2 separate regions of the Homo sapiens genome follow, and region 1 is linked to region 2. Evidence: fine-mapped expression QTL. A gene starts in region 2. The other region holds a variant in brackets. All regions are shown on one strand. Distances are between the middles of the regions.

Region 1 (9,749 bases), 58 kb before region 2:
CTTCTAAGTTTGTTTTCATTGTGTTGTATCCTTATTAGTAGCATTTTGAATACTGTCATTGCTTTCACATTCGGTAGATATGTTAGATAAGTTATGTATTCTATTTTCTGAGTTGGGTGTGCTATGAAAATCTGGTCCCATCTGATTTTATATTTAAATACTCATACGCAGGAACCTTACTGATTGGCAAATTGGCACAAAGAAAGAGTCCAAATACAGAAGAGAATTTGACTCCATATGTAAGTTCAAATCTGCATGTGTACAAGTTTAAGAATAATGTGAATTTATGCCCGAGCGCAGTGGCTTACGCCTCTAATCCCAACACTTTGGGAGGCCAAGGCGGGTGGATCACGAGGTTTAGAGATCGAGACCATCCTGGCCAACATGGTGAAACCCCATCTCCACTAAAAATACAAAAATTAGGTGGGTATGGTGGTGGGTACCTGCAGTCCCAACTATTCGGGAGGCTGAGGCAGGTGAATTTCTTGAACCCAGGAGGTGAAGGTTGCAGTGAGCCGAGATTGTGCCACTGCACTCCAGCCTGGCTACAGAGCGAGACTCTGTCAAAAAGAAAAAAAAGAATAGTATGAATTTCTTAATGATGCAGAATGTTATTCAGTCACCATGTGCAACTGTTGCAAATACTGCTAATTCATGAGTACTTTTTGAGCCAGGAATTAGAACAAAAAGAAAAGCAAGAAAATGGACAATAGGTCCTACTGTACTGGAAAAATAATTATTCATTACATAAGAATCTATTGCATTCTGGTGAAAGACAGTCTTTGAGCAGTTTGCTGAATTTGCCTTTTCTCTGATCTTTATTGCTACAATCCTCTCTGAACTCCAAAGCAGAATCTGTCTCTAAAAATCAGCTCCCTCACAATGCACAAACATGCATGATATAATCTCCATTCATTGTGAGCAAAGAAGGGAAGATAGGCAACTTTTCCCTGGGCTGGATGTTTAGGGTTTCAAGTCCAATTCTACCAGAATTAAGCACTGGATTCTGAGTAACAGAGGTGCTATTTGTTCTTTCAAAATTTTACATGTTTGTATCTGTGATATATGGGACCCTCTAAAGCACGGGGCCAAAGGCACCTTCTAACTGGGTATAAGGATGGTATTTATACCATTTATGATATCACAAATATATGTACCTTTTATAAAGATATGTCACTTTATTATCACCAAGATAACAAATTGTTAAGTTAAACAACCAATCAGAATTAGACTTTTCCAAGTTGCAGGTTTCTTTCTTAGACTATAACAACCTCTGAACTCGAAGTATCTCATGAGACTCTGTTGTTGGAAACACCATATGTCATGTTAATTTTGCTACACAAGAGTCTCTGCTTTGTGCAGCTACAGGATGGAGGAAACGCTTCTAGCTAACAATTCCTTCATTATCAAATTAGTCATGACAACTATACTCCCTAGGTTTTTATGAATATTTACATCATGGTTGGGAAGTATTATAAAAATGAAAAGAAAAAAAAAACCTCTCAGGGTAGTATCAACTCCTTCAGAGCTCAAAGCATAAATATATAATCCATCCATTAAACAATAATATGTGTATTACTTTTGCCCATTTTACAGCTGGGTAAACTAAATTATTATCCAGAGCTTGGAAAGCTAAACAGCTCACAGATCCCTCCAGGGCCTGGCTTCGTATGTTTAGTGTGAGGCAAAAAGGAAATTCTGGCTCAATGATATGGCCCCTGGAAAATTCGAGAACTAGTAAAGTAAACAGAGATAATTAAATCTAGGTCTCTAGGTCTAAATTTACTTCTGGGGGACAATTTACTGGACAAAACTACTATTTTTTTTTATTATACTTTAAGTTTTAGGGTACATGTGCACATTGTGCAGGTTAGTTACATATGTATACTAAAACTACTATTTTTTTTACAAAACATTTTGGAAGTCTTTCATATAACCGGCTCCCAGAAACCCCTACATCAGAATCTCCTAGAGACATTATTAAAAATGCAGTTTCAGAGGAGGTTCCAAGATGGCCAAATAGGAACAGCTCCAGTCTATAGCTCCCAGCATGAGTGATGCAGAAGATGGTAGTTTCTGCATTTCCAACTGAGGTACTGGGTTCATCTCACTGGGGCTTGTCAGATAGTGGGTGCAGCCCACACAGTGTGGGCCAAAGCAGGGCGGGGCATCGCCTCACCCGGGAAGTGCAAGGAGTCAGGGAATTCCCTTTCCTAGCCAAGGGAAGCCATGACAGATGGTACTTGGAATATTGAGACACTCCCACCCTAATACTGCGCTTTTCCAACGGTCTTAGCAAACAGAACACCAGGAGATTATATCCTGCTCCTGGCTCAGAGGGTCCCATGCCCAGGGAGCCTTGCTCACTGCTGGCACAGCAGTCTGAGATGGAACTGCAAGGCAGCAGTGAGGCTGGGGGAGGGGCGCCCACCATTGCTGAGGCTTGAGTAGGTAAACAAAGTGGCTAGGAAGCTCAAACTGGGTGGAGCCCACCACAGCTCAAGGAGGCCTGCCTGCCTCTATAGACTCCACCTCTGGGGCAGGGTATAGCTGAACAAAAGGCAGCAGAAACTTCTGTAGACTTAAACACCCTTGTCTGACAGCTTTGAAGAGAGTAGTGGTTCTCCCAGCACGGAGTTTGAGATCTGAGAATGGACAGACTGCCTCCTCAAGTGGGAGTTAGTCTGTTACTCCTCCCTGAGTAGCCTAACTGGAAGGCACCTCCCAGTAGGGGCTGACTGACACCTCATACGGCAGAGTGCACCTCTGCGATGAAGCTTCCAGAGAAAGGATCAGGCAGCAACATTTGCCTTTCTGCAGCCTCCACTGGTGATACCCAGGCAAACAGGGTCTGGAGTGGACTTCCAGCAAACTCCAACAGACCTGCAGCTGAGGGTCCTGACTGTTAGAAGGAAAACTAAAAAACAGAAAGGACATCCACACCAAAACCCCATCTGTATGTCACCATCATCAAAGACCAAAGGTAGATAAAACCACAAAGATGGGGAGAAACCAGAGCAGAAAAGCTGAAAATTCTAAAAAATCAGAGTGCCTCTTCTCCTCCAAAGGAATGCAGCTGCTTGCCAGCAATGGAACAAAGCTGGACGGAGAATGACTTTGATGAGTTGAGAGAAGAAGGCTGCAGACAATCGGTAATAACAAATTTCTTCGAGCTAAGGGAGGATGTTTGAACCCATGGCAAAGAAGCTAATAACCTTGAAAAAAGATTCGACGAATGGCTAACTAGAATAAAGAGCGTAGAGAAGACCTTAAATGATGTGATGGAGCTGAAAACCATGGCATGAGAACTATATGACGCATGCACAACCTTCAGTAGCCAATTCATCAACTGGAAGAAAGGGTATTAGTGATTGAAGATCAAATGAATGAAATGAAGTGAGAAGAGAAGTTTAGAGAAAAAAGAGTAAAAAGAAATGAACAAAGCCTCCAAGAAATATGGGACTATGTGAAAAGACCAAACATACATCTGACTGGTGTACCTGAAAGTGACACGGAGAATGGAACCAAGTTGGAAAACACTCTGCAGGATATTATGCAGGAGAACTTCCCCAACCTAGCAAGGGAGGCTAACATTCAAATTCAGGAAATACGGAGAACGCCACAAAGATATTCCTCGAGAAGAGCAATTCCAAGACACATAATTAGCAGATTCACCAAAGTTGAAATGAAGGAAAAAATGTTAAAGGCAGCCAGAGAGAAGGGTCAGGTTACCCACAAAGGGAAGCCCATCAGACTAACAGCAGATGTCTCGGCAGAAACTCTACAAGCCAGAAGAGAGTGGGGGCCAATATTCAACATTCTTAAAGAGAAGAATTTTCAACCCAGAATTTCATATCCAGCCAAACTAAGCTTCATAAGTGAAGGAGAAATAAAATCCTTTACAGACAAGCAAAGGCTGAGAGATTTTGTCACCACCAGGCCTGCCTTACAAGAGCTCCTGAAGGAAGCACTAAACATGGAAAGGAACAACCGGTACCAGCCACTGCAAAACATGTCAAAGTGTAAAGACCATCGGTGCTAGGAAGAAACGGCATCAGCTAACGAGCAAAATAACCAGCTAACATGATAAGGACAGGATCATATTCACACATAACAATATTAACCTTAAATGTAAATGGGCTAAATACCCCAATTAAAAGACACAGACTGGCAAATTGGCTAAAGAGTCAAGAACCATCAGTGTGCTGTATTCAGGAGAGCCATCTCATGGCAGAGACACACATAGGCTAAAAATAAAGGGATAGAGGAAGATCTACCAAGCAAATGGAAAATAAAAAAAGCAGGGTTGCAATCC[T/C]AGTCTCTGATAAAACAGACTTTAACCAACAAAGATCAAAAGAGACAAAGAAGGCCATTACATAATGGTAAAGGGATCAATTCAACAAGAAGAGCTAACTATCCTAAATATATATGCACCCAACACAGGAGCACCCAGGTTCATAAAGCAAGTCCTTAGAGACCTACAAAAAGATGTAGACTCCCAAACAATAATAACAGGAGACTTTAACACCCCACTGTCAACATTAGACAGATCAACGAGACAGAAAGTTAACAAGGATATCCAGGAGTTGAACTCAGCTCTGCACCAAGCAGACCTAATAGACATCTACAGAACTCTCCACCCCAAATCAACAGAATATACATTCTTCTCAGCACCACATTGCACTTATTCCAAAACTGACCACATAGTTGGAAGTAAAGCACTCCTCAGCAAATGTAAAAGAACAGAAATTATAACAAACTGTCTCTCAGACCACAGTGCAATCAAACTAGAACTCAGGATTAAGAAACTCACTCAAAACTGCTCAACTACATGGAAACTGAACAACGTGCTCCTGAATGACTACTGGGTACATAAGAAAATGAAGGCAGAAATAAAGATGTTCTTTGAAACCAATGAGAACAAAGACACAACACACCAGAATCTCTGGGACATATTTAAAGCAGTGTATAGAGGGAAATTTATAGCACTAAATGCCCACAAGAGAAAGCAGGAAAGATCTAAAATTGACACCTAATATTACAATTAAAAGAACTAGAGAAGCAAGAGCAAACACATTCAAAAGCTAGCAGAAGGCAAGAAATAACTAAGATCAGAGCAGAACTGAAGGAGATAGAGACAAAAAACCCTTCAAAAAAATCAATGAATCCAGGAACTGATTTTTTGAAAGGATCAACATTATTGATAGACCACTAGCAAGACTAATAAAGAAGAAAAGAGAGAAGAATCAAATAGATGCAATTAAAAATGATAAAGGGGATATCACCACCAATCACACAGAAATACAAACTATCATCAGAGAATACTATAAACACCTCTATGCAAATAAACTAGAAAATCTAGAAGAAATGGATAAATTCATGGACACATACACCCTCCCAAGACTAAACCAGGAAGAAGTTGAATTCCTGAATAGACCAATAACAGGGTCTGAAATTGAGGCAATAATTAATAGCCTACCAACCAAAAAAAGTCCATGACCAGATGGATTCACAACTGAATTCTACCAGAGGTACAAAGACGAGCTGGTACCATTCCTTCTGAAACTATTCCAATCAATAGAAAAAGAGGGAATCCTCCCTAACTCATTTGATGTGGCCAGCATCATCCTGATACCAAAGCCTGGCAGAAACACAACAAAAAAAGAGAATATCAGGCCAATACCCCTGATGAACATCGATGCAATGCAAATATCCTCAATAAAATACTGGCAAACTGAATCCAGCAGCACATCAAAAAGCTTATCCACCATGATCAAGTTAGCTTCATCACTGGGATGCAAGGCTGGTTCAACATATGCAAATTAATAAATGTAATCCAGCATAAAAACAGAACCAAAGACAAAAACCACATGATTATCTCAATAGATGCAGAAAAGGCCTTTAACAAAATTCAGTAGCCCTTCATGCTAAAAACTCTCAATAAACTAGGTATTGATGGGACATATCTCAAAATAATAAGAGCTATTTATGACAAACCCACAGCCAATATCATACTGAATGGGCAAAAACTGGAAGTATTCCCTTTGAAAACTGGCACAAGACAGGGATGCCCTCTCTCAACACTCCTATTCAAAACAGTGTTGGAAGTTCTGGCCAGGGCAATCAGGCAGGAGAAAGAAATAAAGGGTATTCAATTAGGAAAAGAGGAAGTCAAATTGTCCCTGTGTGCAGATGACATGATTGTATATTTAGAAAACCCCATAGTCTCAGCCCAAAAGCTCCTTAAGCTGATAAGCAACTTCAGCAAAGTCTCAGGATCCAAAATCAATGTGCAAAAATCACAAGCATTCCTATACACCAATAACAGACAAACAGAGAGCCAAATCATGAGTGAACTCCCATTCACAATTGCTTCAAAGAGAATAAAATACCCAGGAATCCAACTTACAAGGGATGTGAAGGACCTCTTCAAGCAGAACTACAAACCACTGCTCAATGAAATAAAAGAGGACACAAACAAATGGAAGAACATTCCATGCTCATGGATAAGAAGAATCAATATCGTGAAAATGGCCATACTGCCCAAGGTAATTTATAGATTCATGCCATCCCCATCAAACTACCAATGACTTTCTTCACAGAATTGGAAAAAACTACTTTAAAGTTCATATGGAACCAAAATAGAGCCTGCATTGCCAAGACAATCCTAAGCCAAAAGAACAAAGCTGGAGCCATCACACTACCTGACTTCAAACTATACTACAAGGCTACAGTAACCAAAACAGCATGGTACTGGTACCAAAACAGAGATATAGACCAATGGAACAGAACAGAGCCCTCAGAAATAATACCACACATCTACAACCATCTGATCTTTGACAAACCTGACAAAAACAAGCAATGGGGAAAGGATTCCCTATTTAATAAATGGTGCTGGGAAAACTGGCTAGCCATATGTAGAAAGCTGAAACTGGATCCCTTCCTTACACCTTATACAAAAATTAATTCAAGATGGATTAAAGATTTAAATGTTAGACCTAAAACCATAAAAACCCTAGAAGAAAACCTAGGCAATACCATTCAGGACATAGGCATGGGCAAGGACTTCATGTCTAAAACACCAAAAGCAATGGCAACAAAAGCCAAAATTGACAAATGGGATCTAATTAAACTAAAGAGCTTCTGCACAGCAAAAGAAACTACCATCAGAGTGGACAGGCAACCTACAGAGTGGGAGAAAATTTTTACAATCTACCCATCTGACAAAGGACTAATATCCAGAATCTACAAAAAACTTAAACAAATTTACAAGAAAAAAATCAAACAACCCCATCAAAAAGTGGGCAAAGGCTATGAATGGACACTTCTCAAAAGAAGACATTTATGCAGCCAACAGACACATGAAAAAGAGCTCATTATCACTGGCCATCAGAGAAATGCAAATCAAAACCACAATGAGATGCCATCTCACACCCGTTAGAATGGCCATCATTAAAAAGTCAGTAACAACAGGTGCTAGAGAGGATGTGGAGAAATAGGAACACTTTTACACTGTTGGTAGGACTGTAAACTAGTTCAACCATTGTGGAAGACAGTGTGGCGATTCCTCAAGGATCTAGAACTAGAAATACCATTTGACCCAGCCATCCCATTACTGGGTATATATCCAAAGGATTATAAATCATGCTGCTATAAAGACACATGTACACGTATGTTTATTGCAGCACTATTCACAATAGCAAAGACTTGGAACCAACCCAAATGTCCATCAATGATAGACTGGATTAAGAAAATGTGGCACATATACACCATGGAATACTATGCAGCCATAAAAAAGGATGAGTTCATGTCCTTTGTAGGGACATGGATGAAGCTGGAAACCATCATTCTGAGCAAACTATCGCAAGGACAGAAAACCAAACACCGCATGTTCTCACTCATAAGTCGGAACTGAGCAATAAGAACAACTGGACACAGGATGGGGAGCATCACACACTGGGGCCTGTCATGGGGTAGGGGGAGGGAGGAGGGTTAGCATTAGGAGATATACCTAATGTAAATGACGAGTTAATGGGTGCAGCACACCAACATGGCACAAGTATACATATGTAACAAACCTGCGTGTTGTGCACATGTATCCTAGAACTTAAAGTAAAATTTTAAAAAATGCAGTTTCGAGCTCGGGGTTAAGATGGTAAACTAGAAGCAACTCATGTGCCAGGCTATCACGGAAAGGAAACAAAAGGGCTAGTGAGCATTGACCCTGCAGGCCAATCATCTGAGAAATCATGTCAGGGATTCGGGATCCTTCAAGATGTAAGGGGATTACAGAGAGCAGAAAGGGGTGAAGCTAGATACCAGCCTGTCCGGGCTCAGCGTGGATCCAGGAGAATTTCTCCAACACTGGAAAGGGTGAGTGAGTGAGAACCCCCTAGGGGATTCACACTCTCGACAGGGACCTGTGCAAGACTGGAAATGGGAGAATGCCCCTGAAACCCCTGCCCACCCCCGACCCCACCACCGTGCTTCTAGACTGAGGCAGAGAGCCCCCCAGACATTTTGGAGGGCAACTCTCTAGTCCAAGGAGACTTCTGCAAGCCTTGTGCCCCCAAGAAGACCAGCACTGGTGCCATAGCCCAATAAAGGCTGCAGTCCCAGTGCCTAGGAGCAGTAAGATTGCCCCATCTCAAACCCTTTCTGGATGGGGCTTGGTGCCAGCTTCCAGCCTACTGGTCCTACTTCTCTGTCTGAACTCAGCCAGTGACCATAGCCTCCTGTTCTCCCAGGAAGCACCTGGAGGGCAAGACAGGTGACTACATCTACCCCTGCCACTGGTTGCCAGGCAGGCAACACTTGCTAGAGCTTCCATCCCAGTGGTTCCACTTCTGTCTGAATTCAGCCAGAGAGCACAGCCTCCTGTTGTCCTGGGAAACATTCAGGCAAGGTAGGCAACCCCACCTACCCTGGCCTCTTGTAGCCAGGCAAGCCATGCCTGCTAGAGCTTCCAATTTATGTCCCACAGCCAAATTCTCATTTCCCATTCCTTTATAAAATTCTTGTTTCTGTTGGTTCAACATACACAAATCAATAAATGTGATTCACCACATAAGCAGAACTTAAAACTGAAACCACGTGATCATCTCAATAGATACAGAAAAGGCTTTTGATAAAATTCAACATCCATTAATGTTAAAAATCCTCAACAAACTAGATATTGAAGGAACATACCTCCAGATAATAAGAGCCATCTATGATAAACCCAAGGTCAACATCATACTGAATGGGCGAAAGCTGAAAGATTTCCCCTTGAGAACTGGAAAAATACAGGGATGCCCACTCTTAGCACTCCTATTCAACAGAGTACTGCTAGCATGAGCAAGCAGGCAAGAGAATGAAATAAAAGGCACCTAGATAGGAAGAGAGGAAGTCAAACTATCTATCTTTGCAGACAATTTGATTGCATACCTAGAAAACCCCCACGTCTCTACCCAAAAGCTCGTAGGTCTAATAAACAGCTTCAGCAAAGTTCCAGGATACAAAATCAACATACAAAAATGAGTAGCATTCCTATACACTAACAAAATCCAAGCCGAGAGCCAAATCAGGAAGACAATCCCATTCACAATAGCCACAAAAAGAATAAAATACCTAGAAATACAGCTAACGCAGGAGGTGAAAGATCTCTACAATGAGAATTACAAAACATTGTTCAAAGAAATCAGAGATGACACAAACAAATGGAAATGCTCATGGATAGGAAGAATCGATATTGCTAAAATGGCCATACT
Region 2 (9,690 bases):
ACTGGTTTGCTGAACGTTTGAACTGATGAGAAGCCCCTGACAATGAATGCTGCTTTGGAGGCTTGTGAGTACTACTTGTAAAGATCGCCTACCATCTGACCAGTTATTTTTACCATTGGAACCTTAAACATCCTTGGAATTCTCAGAGCTATAGGAATAACATGGGTGTTGATCTATGTTCTTTTTAGCCCATCTAATTTAAGATTCTAAATTTTGGTTGCATGAATACTATGCAGCCAAAGGACAAGATCGTGTCCTTTGCAGCAACATGGATGGAGCTGGAGGCCATTATCCTAAGTCAACTAACATGGAAACAGAAAACAAGATACTGCATGTTCTCACTCACCAGTGGGAGCTAAACACTGAGTACATGTGGACACAAAGAAGGGAACAACACAAATATGGGACCTACTTGAGGGTAGAGAGTAGGAGGAAGCCCCTCATAGAGGCCCCTATCACAGAAAACTTCCCGTCTCCGGTGTACTAATTTGGTAGTCAGCTGGCAGTTTCACCGTTGCACATTCTGTCTTATCTGCTTTTGCAGGATTACCATGACTTGAGATACAAGAACAGGTTTATGGTCCTAGACCAAAGCCTTTCCCCTAGTGTGTGCAGCCAGCATCATTGCACACTGCAAGAGTAGCCACAGGGACCCTTTGGGGTCAGACCTGCTCACAGACTAGACAGTCTTGGAAGTATTCTTCCAGTGGGGGAGACAACAGGATTATGATTTTGCCAAACACTTCAGGTTAAAGACCAAAAGTTAACTGAGGAAGTTTTTCATGAACCTCAGGAAGAGATAAACATCCAATTCTCTGTTATTTCAAAGCAACCAATGTGTACTGTTTTTATTAAAAGCAAATTAAGCGCTTATCAATCTGTCTCCTGCTACATGACAGGTCACTTGAGAAGAGGAAACATGCCCTATGTGTCCCAACAGAGTACCTGGCCTGTACCTAATGATAATTCATAGCTTGCTGATTATAGAAATGGACAAGGAGCTTAGAGCAATGAAGTCTGCCTTGGCCATGCTAACAATATGTTTGGATCGCAGGTTCCTTAAACCTCTGTGGGTTTCCCAGAACCATGGGAATGGCATTGAACTTCTTTTTTCAGCTCAATGTATAATCCTAAATTTCAATTGCATCTAGAAAACATCTTCACCTCTTCTCATTTCCTTTATAGACATGGACTTTTCAAGTCCCAAGATACTTCAGACAGTCTAAAAACAACTTGCTTTCCGGGAACCTGAGGACTTTTCCAATAGACATTATAGGATCTATGAAATATCTTGAGTCTAGTTCAGTGATGTAAATGCTTCCTACAATTTATATAGACAATTCCAGGTGAATGAATATTTGACATGTAAAACAATGAAAGCACAGAAATTCAGTTAGAATTGGAACACGTGGGGCCGGACGCGGTGGCTCACGCCTGTAATCCCAGCACTTTGGGAGGCAGAGGCGGGCGGATCATGAGGTCAGGAGATCGAGACCATCCTGGCTAACACAGTGAAACCCCGTCTCTACTAAAAATACAAAAAACATTTGCCGGGCGTGGTGGTGGGTGCCTGTAATCCCAGCTACTCGGGAGGCTGAGGCAGGAGAATGGCGTGAACCCGGGAGGCAGAGCTTACAGTGAGCCAAGATTGCACCACTGCACTCCAGCCTGGGCGACAGAGCGAGACTCCCTCTCAAAAAAAAAAAAAAAAAAAAAAAACTGGAACACGTGGGAGTCAGCCAGAAAAGTAAATCAGAGTAGCCCAAAGATAGCCATCAAGACCCCTGAGGTGGTATGAAGATTACCAGGACTTTCAGAGCAGAGAAGTTCCTAGTAGCTGAGTATTTTCTCTGTGGACATGATTGGTGCAAGTTTGCAAACATGAGTAGTCTCAAAAGCAAACATCAGACACTCTCTGTAGAGGTCAGTGCACTTTGACCTACATCCTTTCTGGTATTGCATGGATTATTAAGGTGCACAAGGGGAAACCAAAGCATAGAAAAATAAAGTTCTAGACTCAGAGCCTCATAGAAAATAGGTATTTATTAGGAATTAGTCTCTGATCCAAAGCATTTGGACCTGAAAGGGATCCAGGGATCATTTGGAAAAGTATCTGTGAAACTTTAATGTACCAACAAATCATCTGGACATGTTAAAAGGCAAGTTCTCATTCAGGAGATCTGTAGAGGGGCCTGATATTCTGCATTTCTGGGCTTTTAGTAGTTGAGGATGCCACTGTAACAGACCATATCCTGAGTAGCAAAAATCTAGTCTAGTGGTTTTAAACCATGCACAAAAAAATCACTTTGGGATTACTTTTTTCAGAAAACTTACTGATAATACTCATGCCTGGGCTTCACTTCCAGAGATTCTGATTGATTGGGCTGGAGATTGGCTCAGGCATCTGCATTTTTAAAAGACTTCCAAGGAATTTTACAACCTTGCAGCCCAAGGTTGTAAACCACTGTTCAAGGCCAACCTTTTTCTATACCTGATGAGGAAACTCAGTGTTTAAGTGAAATCAAGTTCACTCTGCTAGTTCGTCGAACACAGAGCTGGTTCTGGAATGTTGATAGTGGTTAAGTTTTATTTCTCCAATGCTTAAGTTTCATTTCTACAAGTAGGCATCCTGCCCATTAGAAATGAGTTTCCCTCTCTAGTTTCCATTGTTTTTTTCCTATTTGTAGACACAGACACACACACACTCTCTCTCTCTCTCTCTTACACAATGTGTTGGCTGTTTCCTTATTGTTGCTCTGTCCTGTGTGGTTCATGGCTGTATTTATCCAAGGACACACTGGGCCAGATCCTGAATACCTAATCAGTTGAGCCAGAGCCTCACAGAACCAGGACTGCTGCCAAATTCAGTGACCACATGACAAACACTCACTCTGTTTCTCTGACACGCTGTTACTAGCAATAATTTTATGCATGAAAATTCCAAAGTCATACTACTCTCAGTGTAAGCAGCTCTCCTAATGTTCATTTCAGTATTTGCTTATGTTTCTATCCCTTTTAGAGTTGATTCAGGGCTAGTGCCTTACAGAAGATATTTGTATCTGAAAACACAATTGGCCTCCTAGAAGCTTCCCATCTGATACAGAACTGGAGAGAGAGAGCTGAGAGGAAATGAGTCCCATTCCAAAATCTCTTCTCCCCCTACACAGGTCCATCCTCACTAGGGAGAGGTTGAATGCCTGCTGCCCAAGAGGTACTGCTGGGCTCTATGTGTAGATATGGCCAGGGCTCCCTGACCTGAGCCTGAGATGGGAATATGTAGATTGCCCTGGCCTGAAGCTCAGAACAGGACACCCCTATCTCAGCAGCTGCACAGTCAGATATGACATGAAACACCTCTCTCTCAGTGCCCACTGGGAAAAATTGTAGTCTGGAAGGGCTCCAGCTAATGGTCAGCACAGACTGCACAGATAAGGGGACTTGTCCCACACTGTGAAAGCAACACTCACAATTACTGAATGCTGTTAAATGAGACATGCTTTCCATGCAATATCCCACTTCATCTCAACATAACCCCATGACGAAAGTCCTAGTGCTATTCCGATTCCATGGGTAAGTAAATGTGGCTTAGAAATGTGAACCAACTATCCCAAGATCACATGTCCAGTAAGCAGCAAAGTCCATTAATGACCCCAGGTAGTCTGATTCCAGGTGGCCTTCACTACTGAGCAACATCATCTTGTGCGCACAAAGACAAGTAAAGGTAAAGGGTTTTAATAGTTCTCATTATGCCCAAGCTGCAGAGCAAGAAAGGAAACCTCAGAAGAAAACATCCCATTGGCCCCAAATATAGAATAATGGTTGTTCTATGATGGGGTGCTATTGTCTTATACTCAGAGTACACAACCCCAAAATAAACAAGATGGCAAATATCTGTGCAGAACCCCCTCCATCAGGTGATTCTGTCACCTGACAGGTGTAGAAGGTTTTTTCTAATGGCCTTGGTTTGCTCAACCCCAGATGGAACAATGTTTGACTAACAATCATTCTTCCCTTTCAGCAAACTTGGTCTTCCACAGCAGGGCTACGTGGGCCTAGTTTCCTTTCCCTCATTCCCCTGAATGGTTCTAACCTCCATTTCTGTGCTGTCATTATGCTTAGAGAATTTTTCTGCCTACTTTTATTATTAGAGTATACTCAAGGAATAAAATGGGGATTCTCATTACTTAAGTAATGTTGAGATTTGGTGGGTTTATGGAAGAATACATGGATCTAAATGATATCCTGTGCTTGTAAGATGTCAAGACGGGCCAGGTGCAGTGGCTCACACCTGTAATCCCACACTTTAGGAGGCCAACACAGGTGCATCACCTGAGGTCAGGAGTTCGAAACCAGGATGGCCAACATGGTGAAACCCCATCTCTACTAAAAATACAAAAAAATAGCTGGGTATGGTGGTGCACACCTGTAGTGCCAGCTACTCTGGAGGCTGAGGCATGAGAATCACTTGAACCTGGGAGGCAGAGGTTGCAGTGAGCAGAGATAGTGCCACTGTACTCCAGCCTAGGTGATACAGCGAGACTCTATCTTAAAAAAAAAAAAAAAAAAAAAAGAAGAAGAAGTCAAGAGGTCCAGCACATTCTTCTAGGAACTTGTCTCATGCGAATGGGGAGATGTGGTCTATCTCAAGTTGCCTAAATCCTTCCTTGAATAGACGTGGAGATGGGTTTTTAATTCACATAGAGAGAGAGATTATATACTATACTCTTTCTTAAGCATATTCTTTTCCTAAGATGTCTGCTCTCATTTCAACTGTGAATGCATAAGATCTTATGTGACGTTCCTTTTCTGGGTAGTCCTTCTTGTCTATATAATTTTTGGCTTTAGAAAGGTCAGGAGCAGTAACTGGAGCAGTAACTCAGAAGTTCCCTGAAAAGAAAGAGAAGAGCTGCCCCAGACATCTGAGAGCATCATTAACACCTGTGACCATGATGGGTCAAGACAAAATACAAGGCCACTCTGTAATCAGGTCTGAGTGCAGACAAAAATACGAATATTTTCCAACTGGATTCGAAAATAATCAAGCAGCCCCTTAAACTGGCCAATATGAATGACTGCTGCTTCCTTTCAAATTACACCTGTCACCTTGGTCTAGTCTTCTCTTTTTCCAGACACAATTTAAGATACCCAATTATAGAATCATTTCTGCTTCCTGACAGCCTCCCATCCCATGCCCATGACCACACCTTACCACATGGGAGCCTGGGAAATATAGTCTAGTTACAGGCCCAGGACAAAGAAGAAATAGCACAGCGAGGCTACAGTTTCATTTGGTAATTATGAGAAGACTGTAATGAAGTTAATAACCCTACCTTGAAATGCTCACTCAGAGGGAAATCGCTCTCAGTCTTTGCCCTTTTGCTTATCTTGGTGCACTACCCCTACAAAACCAAGATCCAGAAACGTACAGGATGACATTGTAACAATTCACAAGAGGAATTCAGAATAGCAGCTTTCCAAATTTTCCTTTTTCTCTGCTAATTGTGTGGGCAATTACATCAGCCTTGGGATCATATAAATTTTTCATTAAACATGTGAACATTGTTTGATTGACTCTCTGATGGTTGTTGCTTTGTAACAGATAATCTTCAAAATAGTAGAAACAGAAGAAACATAAGGACAACTCAGAAGAACTATGTGAATTTGGATTTAGATTTTTAACCCCCATGACCCCATCACATTCTCTGACTACATTGCATATGTTTCTCTACTGACCAGCTCAAACATTGTTGTTTGAACCACTAATGGTGAACAGTAAAGATCATCAAAACAGTCAATATGCTTGAATAGGCTCCACTATAGCCAGGGTTGGCAGTAATGCAAATGCTGCTGGAGGATGTAACCAGTATGGGACCCTTCTTATAGACCAATATCTCAAAATTGAGGAGTTGTTTTGCCTAACACAGCCCCACAGAAGAAGACCTAACCATCTGCAACCTCATTCTTCCACAAATTGACAATGACTTTCTACAGTATTCTTTTAGGCACAAACCACTGACCCTGGTCTAAGGAGCTTCCATTGTAGACGTCCCTGGAACCACCTGGCGGGATACATGTGATAGTAACAAGTTTGACAACAGAGTCTGACATGATTCACAAAAATATACGTTCCTGTCTGCCACTGGTTTTTCCACAACACTGAATGTCATCATAAAGTCCAGTTACCCTCTATCTCCTACACCACATTGACTCCAGCAAGGGAATTTGCGTATCAAAACTGCTTCTCACACACCCATCCTCTTAGCTGCCAAAACTCAGCATGTATTTGTAATCAAAGCAGAGACAGCCCTATTCCTCTGTATCATTTTCACCCTGCCAATTCACTAGGCATCAAGGGTGTAAAAAACTGCCTGGATATACCTCCCATATATAAGCACCATGCTTATCTGAGAAGCCCTAGAACTCTGTGGATGAACCTTGAAGGAGCCTCCAAGCCTGAACCAAAGCACTACAGATCACCTGCTATCTTCATAGCACCATGAGGTAAAGTCTTTCTCTGCTTCACTGACCTTATTTCTGCACACTTTGAAATTCTAAAACTTTCCTTAAGGGCCAATTTTTTGACAGGCCTTCTCCTAAGGGAGCTGTCCCACTGGTGGTTCTGACCCTGATAGGCACCCTCAACATGATAACCAAGAAGAGTTTAATAAGGGGGCTATTTAAGACGATATGGGCAAAGTTTAGGGAAATCAACAGGAAATGGTGCTTGTTGGTTGCAGGGCAGCGGGAAGAGGCGTGTTGGTTTACAACAGTGGTAACATGATAACCCTGGGCCTACAGGAGCAAGAGGAGAGAACCAGACCCAAGGAGACTCTAAGCTATAGCTGTAGGGGAGGGGCTTCTCAAGAGGCCTTTGGTGAAAAAATCACTGACAACCTCAAGCAGAGCACAGTGGGAGCTTAGGAATTAATTCCATGACCTTCACCTCCTCCTGCAATTTAATATCTGGCTGGTGCTCCCCAGTGGGCCAACCCCAGTAGAAAGTAAAAAATAAAAGAGTTTTGGAGTTAATAAAGTCCATAGAGTCAGCTTCCAAGCACAGAGCATGGTGAAGAATGTAGGAAAGTAGATTCAGAGGGGCAAGATGAGAATATATGTAGAGGCAAGTTTCCTAACTCCTGTTACAGAGCTCGCTTAGTAAGGGTAGCTGGCTTAATAAAAGCAGCAATGCTCTTAAGGAAATAAACGAGAAAGCAATCTTATTTCCAAAGATGTCATTTCTGTAGCACTTTCTAATAGAGGGACAATTACCCAGGCAACACTTAAAGACTGTTCACCAGGGAACAGAGGCCTGAGCCTAGAGAGGAGACTGGCCCGGGGACCAGTCAGGGCAAGAGCATTGAGATCCTTTTAATATACAAAATACTCTTTTAGGCATCCAGGTGAGAAGAAGCAGCTATTTTTATTTGATAAATTGGTTAAATTCACGTGGGAAAAAGAAGCTACTTTCAGAGATGGCTGTTTTTCTGTTGTTTGTTTGTTTTTGATACCAAGTCAAATTTTGTGATTACTGTGAAACTATGAAATTGTGATTACTATGAAATTTGCTTTTCACTGAATTAACTGTTCTCAAAGTGTGGTCCCCTGACTAGCAACATCAGCATCACTTGGGAAGGTAGCAGAAATGCAAATTCTCAGGCCCTACCCTAAACCTGCTGACTCAGAAACTCTAGGGTGGGGCCCATCAATCTGTGTGTTATAAGTTTTCCAGGTGATCATGTTGCCTGCTAAAATTTGAAAAACCATTATACTAGATGTTAGAAAATAAGAAATTTTGTAGGCATTGTGATATGTTTGTTCCACAAAATATATATTTCTTTTTTTCCTGGTGTAGTTAGAACTGGTGACCTGCAGAAAATGCTTTCACTCAAAAGTATTCTGACCTGCTAGAGTTCTCCCATCTGATGTTGCAGTCAGTGGGAGAGGAAGAACTTTACAGAAAAAGGGGCTGCTCTTTTGAGATCCCTTTCTAGCAAACATGTAGACCTGTCTTGAGAAGAAATTATAAATGAAGGATTGCAAAAAAATTCACCACAAGAGTACCCAAGTCTCTCTTTTTAATATAACGGGCTCCTGGTCATAAGATGTTAGTTGTGGCTGGGCATGGTGGCTCACACCTGTAATCCCAGCACTTTGGGAGGCCGAGATGGGCAGATCACGAGGTCAGGAGATCAAGACCATCCTGACTAACAAGGTGAAACCCCGCCTCTTCTAAAAAATACAAAAAATTAGCCGGGAGTGGTGGCGGGCGCCTGTAGTCCCAGCTACTCAGGAGGCTGAGGCAGGAGAATGGCGTGAACCTGGGAGGCGGAGCTTGAAGTGAGCCGAGATTGCACCACTGCACTCCAGCCTGGGCAACAGAGTGAGACTCCGTCTCAAAAAAAAAAAAAAACAAAAGGTATTAGTTGTGTCTGCATCTGTGGAGTTGACAGAAAGCAAGCCTTTCATTCCCTGCTGCCTTGGTAGCTAGTCTATGTGAGAGGTTTTGCAATGGCCTGGGCGTATGTTTCTAGAAGCCACTGACCTGAGGTGGCCTAAGGGGAATCTGGACTATCCCAGACTGAATAATGCCCACATCAAAATCCTCCTGATCCCACTGGTTCAGGGACAGAGGAGCAGATTGAGCTCCTCCTTCCATTCATGCTTATTGATCAAGACAGCTTAAGTGGAGCTTAAGTGGACAAGATCCAGGGAAATGCCTCACAAAACATGGTGACGAGTCCCTGTCTGCCACAGGCATACAGGGATTAGGTCACTACATACATGCACAAACTCATCTTTTTTTTTTTTTTTTTCCAGACAGGGCCTCCCTCTGTCACCCAGTCTGGAGTGCAGTGGCATGATCACAGCTCACTGCAGCCTCCACCTGCCCGGGCTCAGGTGATCCTCCCACGTCAGCCCAAGTCGCTGGGACTACTGGTGTGCATCGCCAGGCCCGGCTAATTTTTGTATTTTTTGAGAGACATGGTTTCGCTATGTTGCCCATGCTGGTCGTGAACTCCTGGGCTCAAGCAATTCACCTGCCTTGGACTCTCAAAGTGTTGGGATTACAGGCATTAGCCACCACGCTGGGGCCTAATTTGATGATAATATGTATACTACTAATAACAGCACTTTCTGTATGCTCACCAGATAAAAGGAGGACTTTAGGCTCTCAGCATTTCCATTTTAGAGAGTGAGGACACCTCTAGGGTGATATTCTACTCCTTAGTCTTCCCAGGGCCCAAGTCAAGAAGATACATGTTGATGAACAACCACCTATAAGAAAGAGCAATAATTCTCTTCTGGAACTTGGCAGGGCAGCCTTGTAAGATTGTGTAAATTGTGCACTTGAAATTCTACAATCTCAGTGAAAGCCAAAATCTAGTATACTTTTTTCCACCTATCAATGCATGGCCATGATTAGATCACTCAGAGGAAGACTGATCTCTTTCTACTGCTCACAAATGTGCTGGGTGGGCTAGCAGCTGAGATGCTGAGATTGGGTACATATTTAGAAAGCTTGGAATGGCTTATCTTCAAATATTCCAGCAGCTCTAGAGTAATGGAAGTCTGTGTGGATTATTTTCCCTGGGTAGTGTCTGTTCTCATCATAGCACAAGCTCCACGGGGCATGAGTGGACGATTTGGGTCAAAAACTCTTCCCGATTCCATCTTCTGTAGGGGTGGTGA

Evidence for each region.
Region 1: its variant is fine-mapped to the expression of IFIT1B in whole blood (TOPMed, PIP above 0.99).

What each region holds. Positions count from the first base shown.
Region 1 is chr10:89,314,100-89,323,848 of GRCh38, forward strand. It overlaps a transcript of LIPA not described here. Among named protein-coding and RNA genes, the nearest start is that of IFIT3, 9.0 kb to the right of the region's middle. The variant T/C (reference allele first, on the strand shown) is at 4,316.
Region 2 is chr10:89,371,640-89,381,329 of GRCh38, forward strand. IFIT1B (interferon induced protein with tetratricopeptide repeats 1B) reads left to right here and starts at 6,417. Exons shown (of 2, transcript NM_001010987.2): 1 at 6,417-6,501. The coding sequence starts at 6,497. It also overlaps a transcript of LIPA not described here.